Linked DNA regions of Homo sapiens. The protein of the gene in region 1 purifies or fractionates together with the protein of each later gene. This does not show direct contact. Each region holds a gene or a part of one and is shown in the gene's direction. Other genes may lie near its edges.

Region 1 (3,653 bases):
CAGTGCGGGGAGTCATGTGGAACTTAGTGTTCAGTTACAAAGGAAAATAGAAGCAGGGAAGGAAAGCTGGAAGTGAGTGGGGATTCAGCTTTAGTTTGGGGGTTCAGGGAGACTGCCCTTGAAGAAAGACCTGGGGAAGTTAGGAATGAGTTACATGAACACTGGGGGCCAGGGGAGCTTCCAGATAGAGGGAACAGTAAGTGAAGACACCCCTGTTTCAAATAGGAGGCAGGCCGCATGGCTGGTACAGAGTGAGCATGGGAGGGTAAGGGGATAACAGCAGAGAGTTAGAAGGGCAGGGCCTGGAGAGGCCATCATAAGACCTGAACTTCTCTGCCAAGTGCACCAAGAAACCCAGGTGGAGGGGCCAGGAAGGCATCTGGGCATGGGCGTCTCAAGATTAGGTCTGAGCTAAAGATGGAAATTTGGGGGTCAGCACAAGTGTAGAAAAAAAGGCTAAGAGTTTGTAAGATGGCGCCTTAGGGCATCAAGTGTTCAAGTAAAGGAGACCGTGTGGCTCAGTGAGGTGAGAGGAGAACCCCATGGTCTCAGAAGCTGAGTGAAGACAGCATTTCAGGCTGTCCCAGGAGTGGGAAGCTGTTCAAGAGGAGCTGATGGCTCAGTGCACATCATATTTGTACATTTCTTCCAGGAAAGAGAAATTGAAGATGCAGATGCAGGAGGGAAAGAGAATTGCAGGAGGAGGGTCCCGAGTACTGAGGGGGTCTCTCGCCCGCACTCCGTGCCTATTGACAGGAGAGCAAGTAGCATATGGGTGCAGATGCCTGTGTGCGTGGGTTCGGTGGGCGGGGGGGGGGGGGGACTTTGGCAAAGACTTCTTCCTGTTTTCTCTTCTTAGTGATGAAATAGGAAGCCCCTGAGATGGCGGGGCTGGAGGTGAGGGTGCGGGTGGGCAGACAAGAGGAGATAAAGCAGTTCAGTCGTCGAAAGGTGTGGTGGAGTGACTCCCTGCACTGTATTAGAGCAGTGATTCTCAAGGAGTGGGCCAGGGTTTGGGGTCCCCAAGATTGTTTCAGGTGTTGTGTGAGGTTAGAGCTATCTTCATGATGTATTAAGAAGGTTTTTCATCTTTTCCACTGTCATTCCCTCACAAGTAGACAGTGGAGCTTCCCAAGGTGTGATCTTTCAGCAGCAAGCATAACAAATGCTTGAGAATCCCGTTGTCTTTTAAGCAGGACGTTGCAGAATTGTTAAAACAATGCCATTGTTGTCACTGGATTTTGTTTTGTTTTGTTTTCGGAAGTATAGTGATTTTTTTGGTAAAGGTATTTGTGTTAACGTGTAATTGATTTATTATTTTTGAGTGAATATTTAAAATTTTTAAATCTCAGTAGATATTACGCGTATAAACAAAAGTTCTTTGGAGTCTTCAGTAACTTTTTAGCGTAAAGGAGTTCTGAAACCAAACAGTTTAAGAACTGCTGGACTACAGAAATATGATATGACTAGCATTGTTATGGGTCTCAAAGGAGAATTTGACTAGAAATCAGAAGAGAACAGTTGAAAAGTAGCTGGTTTTGAACCTGACAAAATAGTGGCTCCATTAATTGACTAGGGAAGTGAGGGGATGGAGATGGGTTTTCAGAATGCAGATTTGGGAATGGTGTGCTGGGATGTGCTGGTGAGCTGCCCACAGCATCGGAGCCAGGTTGGGAGGCATCCACTAAGAACACGTGATTGAACACATAGGAATGGGGATGGTGGGGACAGGGAGGTGGGAGTGTAGAATAGGAGTGGGGAGCAAAAACCGAGTGGTGGGAGTGACCACATTTAGAGGGTGGAATAAAGGAGCAATTGTCAGGGAAGACCCAGACACAGGCGGGGAGGATCCATGGGGTTGGATGCTGCAGCGGGCGAGTTTGACCTTCTGTCTCTGCGAGATACATCCCTAGTTGGTCTCCAGTTCCATTAGCAATTTATTGCCACTTAGAAAACACAAGATGTAGATTTATTAACTTGAATTTTAAAGAAGCAAGTAGCAGTTAAGTGAAAAAATATGTAAACACCTTAATAGTGGCTGTGACAGCTTATTATGGCTATTAGGTAGATTAAATCATCTGCCTCAGCCCTAAAGTTGGCCTTAAAGTTGTTGATGAAACATGTTTTGTTTTCCTTGTGGCATATTACTGTTAGCTTTAGCAGGCTTATTTCAACTGGTTATTGTAAACGCTGCTTACTAGAGACATTTCTCTTGTTTCTTTCAGTAACTTGGATCCACTTACAGAAACTGTATCCTTTTTTACAAAAAAAAAAAAGTTGAATGAAGATTTACTGAGAATAAAGAAAACAGAAATGAAAGGAAAACAGAGGAGTACTGAAAAGTTTAAAAACTTGTAGGTCAGGAAACATCATAAGCAACACTGAAAGCAATTTTAAAAAGTGAAACTGAGAACAAGAGTTGTCTTAGATCTGCTGACAAACTGTTAATATCATGACTTGGTAGAAATCTGTAACATCATAGCTCCCCTGCCAACCTTGCCCCTCAGGAGTCAGCATGGCTGTATTCACCAGAAAGCACAGTGACTTCAGCAAGGTGGCTGCATAGTCTCCAGTGTGAACAAAGTCTGGAGATAAGCAGTCCCAGGCAGGTGATGCTTCCATGAAGACACCAACAGCCAGGCTCTTTGCAGTTTAAGCACTCTACCCCTCCCAGGGTGGCCGTAACCTTGTTCCAGATGTTGCCACAGCAAACAGCATCACAGCCATGTTTCCGGCAGCAGAAACAGCAGAGGGGGAGGTGAGGGTGTTCTTCCCTTTTAAGAGTACCTTTGGGCCTGTACTCCCAGCACTTTGGGGGGCCAAGGCAGGCAGATCACGAGGTCAGGCGTTCAAGACCAGCCTGGCCAACATGGTGAAACCCCGTCCGTCTCTAGTAAAAATACAAGAACTAGCCAGCCGTGGTGGCTCACTCCGTAATCCCAGCTACTTAGGAGGCTGAGGCAGGAGAATCGCTTGAACCAGGACCCGGGAGGCAGAGGTTGCAGTGAGCCGAGGTTGCAGTGAGCCGAGATCGCGCCACTGCACTCCAGCCTGGGCTACATGTAGAGCGAGACTCCGTCTCAAAAAAAAAAAAAAAAGGAGAGTACCTTTGGGAAATGCCACACAGGCCCGCTCTGTCTCATTGACCAGCACCTGTTTCATGCTTCACCTGTCTACTGAATCCTATCTAGAGTCCAGAAATGTGCCCTGCTTTATAAATTGGGACTTGTTACTAAAGTGAAGGCTTTGAGGTAACAATGAACAGTGTCTATTATTGTCCTAATGGAAAAATGGGGCAAAGATGTGAAGATAGGATACTGTGGTTATGCTGCTGTAACAGATAACCCCACATCTCTAGTGGCTTACAACACAAAGTTCGGATTCTGTGTTATGCTCTGTATCTACTGTAGGTGGGTAGGAGGGTTCTGCTAACCGGTAATTTATCAAAAGAGGGCATATAGGAGCTTAATGAACGTGTTAAGAGTTCAGTCTCATCAGTCAAAAGACATGTAAACTAAAACCAAAATGAGATGCCATATTTTATGTATCAGCCAAGATTTTAAAAAATGATAAACCTCAGTGCTGATGATGGTGAGGTGAGAGGAACATTCTCATAAATTGCTAGTGACAATATAAATTGCTATTATCTTTCC
Region 2 (3,653 bases), on another chromosome or scaffold:
ACACAATCACGTTCAAAATTGACATAGCATGTAACATGGATTTCAGTGAAGAAAAGTACTTCAGAATCAAATTTTAGAAGAGTGTTTTAGGGTTTAGTGGCCTAATCAAAGGGAGTCCAGAAGCTATTTTTGGATAATACATAGGAGGTAGAGCAACCTGGTTTTGCCTCTGGTTATCATTTGACATTGCCAGTGTCTTACTTGTTCATATTATGGGGAAGGAATCGAGTGGTCACAGAACTTTTGGAGAAAATTTATCAATTTTTTGTTTACTTTGTAATGCTTTTCTGTTCTTATTTAATAAAATATGCCTTTCGATTATATTAATTTAAATTTGTATATATTGAATTGATTTAAACTAGGATCCTTTCCCCCTTTCTCTTTCAGGACTTGACCCAATGAAAGAAGCATATGGCACTTGTGAAGATAAATGTTACTCCTCCCTTTTTAATTGGAACTTCTGCTTAGGACCTGTGTATGACGTTTCACCTGTGATCTGTTCTTTCGGTAGCCACTGACTTTGAGTTACAGGAAGGTCTCCGAAGATTTGTGTCAAATGACGTCAATGGCCAGCTTGTTTTCTTTTACTAGTCCAGCAGTAAAGCGATTGTTGGGCTGGAAACAAGGTGATGAGGAGGAGAAATGGGCAGAAAAGGCAGTTGATGCTTTGGTGAAGAAACTAAAAAAGAAAAAGGGTGCCATGGAGGAACTGGAGAAAGCCTTGAGCAGTCCAGGACAGCCGAGTAAATGTGTCACTATTCCCAGATCTTTAGATGGACGCCTGCAGGTTTCTCACAGAAAAGGCTTACCCCATGTTATATATTGTCGTGTTTGGCGCTGGCCGGATTTGCAGAGTCATCATGAGCTAAAGCCGTTGGATATTTGTGAATTTCCTTTTGGATCTAAGCAAAAAGAAGTTTGTATCAACCCATACCACTATAAGAGAGTGGAGAGTCCAGGTAGGTCTTATTCCTGAGAAGAATTTGGAAAAACAAAAACAAAAAACCTCTCTTCCTGATATGCATGTAACTAGATTTAGTAATGAAAAGGTTGTATTAGCTTTGTGTTTCCATCTTAAATATTCTAATCTTGGAAGGGCTATTGGATTTTGAGTTTAGCTTTTTATATGTAGGTGATACAATTCTCAGGTGGCTTACTCTAATTCATTATTCACTGTAAGCACCCATATATCTACTCTGCCTTTTCCTGTGGATGACCTGTCTCTGTTTTATTTAAAGCCTAAGCTCCAAGTGTGTACTATATCCCATTCCTTTTTGTCAAATGAAGAACTTTGTTCCTACAGTTATCATCCTTCTCTCCAGCATTATATTTTCCCTTTCTACCAGAGTATTTCTGATAGCATACAAGCATGCCATGATACTACCCATCCTAAAATAAAACTTAAAAAAAAATTCTGCTTTTCACTTCATTCACATAACCCAACCCCAATCACTGCACTGTTTCCACTGGTCCTTTTAGAGGATTCTCCATTTTTATTATCTTTATGTTTCATTTTTTTCTTGTGACTTCTCTAGTTAGTCTTTCTTTCCTACCATTTAACTTGTCGAGATCACTAGTGACTGCCTTTTTATAGGTCAAGGGGTCATTTTTGAGTCTTATCTTACTGTCCGCTCAACTGCATTTGATACAGTTGATCTCCTTCCATCCTACTCAAAACTTTTTCTGTGTTTGGCCCCTAAGACAGTATGCTATCCTGGTTCTCCTACCTCACTGACTGTTCTTGCCCCTCTTTGCTGGCGTATTCTCCTGTTTTCACAGGAGTCAGTCCATGGACCTTTTCTCCATTTATATTATTTCTTTATGTGCTTTCATGCTGTCACATGTCTTAAGATTGTCTATAAGCTGATGCTCACATTTTGAACTCAAGTCAACTTCTCCCTTGAGTTTTAGATTTGTGTATCCAGTTGCCTACTTGACATTTCCACTTGAATATTTATTTATTAAACATACCAAATGTAATATGTCTAAGCGCAGTTTTTTTTCTCTGGTTTCCCCTATTGAAGTGAATGGCAACAGCATTCATGTAATTGCTAATGCCCTAAACTGCAAGGTCATCTTTTATTCTTCTTACTTAAATCCTATATTTAAAATATGAGCAAATGCTGTTTGCTGCACCTTCAAAATATGTCTTAATAAATATGTCACCTCTCATCATTTGTGACATCACTACTTTAGTACAGTACATCATCATCATCACTCACCTTAAGTAGTGTCCTAATTGGTCTTTCTGCGTCTCTTCTTCCCCTTAACCCATTGTGTTTTCCACACAACAGCCAGAATGATTTTTTAAAAACATACTAAATCATGTCAGTTCCTACTGAAAACACTTTCAAGGCTGTCACACTTAAAGAGATTTCTGTAAGACTCTGTATGACCTATCCTCAGAGTTCTCTGTTCCTTGGACTTGCCATACTCCTGTTTCCAGGCTTTAACTCTTGCTGTCTACTTATTCTCCCCCAGGATCTTTCCATGGCACATTTTCTCATTCCATTCAGTCCTTGCTCAAATATCCGCATCACTAATTGACTCTATATTAGATATTTATTTTGTTTATTGACTGACATGAGCAGAGTCTTCCTCTATTTCATTCATTACTCTATCCTTAGTGCTTAGAATAGTATATTGTTGTCTGGCACTTGGTAGGTGATGCTCAGTAAATTTTTTTTATAATGAATGGTATAAGCTGAGCTGCTAGCTGAGTGCATTAGTCATCTATTGCTGCATGACAGATTGCCACAAACTTAGTGGCTTAGCACAATGCATGTTTATTACCTCACAGTTTCTTTGGGTGAGGAGTCCAGTCACATTTAGCTGGGTCCTTTGCAAGGCGCTGTAATCAAGGTGTTGGTTAGGGCCAAGGTCTTATCAGAAGCTCAATTAGGGAAGGATCTGCTTCCAAGCCCATGTGATTGTTGACAGATTTAGTTGCTTTCACATAGCCTTCTTTATAGGTAGTTCACATTCATGACAGCTTCTTCAAAGCCAGTAAGGAAGAGAGGGTCTTCTGGTAAGAAGGACATTATATTCTTGTGGAATGTAATCATACATACGCTGTCACCTTTGCCATATTCTGTTGGTTAGAAGGAAGTGATAGGTCATACTCATACTCAAGCAGGGAGAATTACCCAATGGTTTGAATACCTGGAGGTGGGAATCACAGTGGTTACCTTAGAGTCTATCTGGGTTTCACGTGGAGATGTGTGGTAAAAAGACTGAAAATAACATTGGATGTGGAGACTAGTAGAAAGGATAGCAGATAGCAGTGATTATGCTGTCTGTGAAAGTTCAACTTAAGAGCTTTAGAGTGTCTTTAGACAGTTGGTATGATATGATTCTCAGTTTCTTACTGAGTCCAAGGAAAGCTGATAGCTGAAGGAACTGATGAAGAAAGGAAGATAAAAGGATTTAATAGAGAAGTATAGGCTGAAAAACTCCCAAGCTTGCTATTTGCTAGGAGGGAGTCTAGGAATTTTATGTATTCCCCTATAGCCAAAGTGTGACTAGTAGTCAGCCAGCCAATAGAAATGTCTTATTTTTTGTATACATTTTTCTCAGCTATGATTCATTCTATAGAAAAGACTGGGGCATAGCTCTGATACTTTTAAATAACGGAAAATTTCATGTCTTACTAG

The links. Proteins that work in one complex are often made in the same cells at the same time.
Region 2: the proteins of NAA20 (region 1) and SMAD5 fractionate together in Homo sapiens (co-fractionation; one large-scale study listed by BioGRID). This does not show direct contact.

What each region holds. Positions count from the first base shown.
Region 1 is NC_000020.11:20,020,231-20,023,883, forward strand, and holds part of NAA20 (N-alpha-acetyltransferase 20), read left to right. Parts: intron 1-2,225; coding exon 2,226-2,250; intron 2,251-3,653. UniProt on the Homo sapiens protein: Catalytic subunit of the NatB complex which catalyzes acetylation of the N-terminal methionine residues of peptides beginning with Met-Asp, Met-Glu, Met-Asn and Met-Gln. Proteins with cell cycle functions are overrepresented in the pool of NatB substrates.
Region 2 is NC_000005.10:136,153,205-136,156,857, forward strand, and holds part of SMAD5 (mothers against decapentaplegic homolog 5), read left to right. Parts: intron 1-387; 5' UTR 388-556; coding exon 557-959; intron 960-3,653. UniProt on the Homo sapiens protein: Transcriptional regulator that plays a role in various cellular processes including embryonic development, cell differentiation, angiogenesis and tissue homeostasis.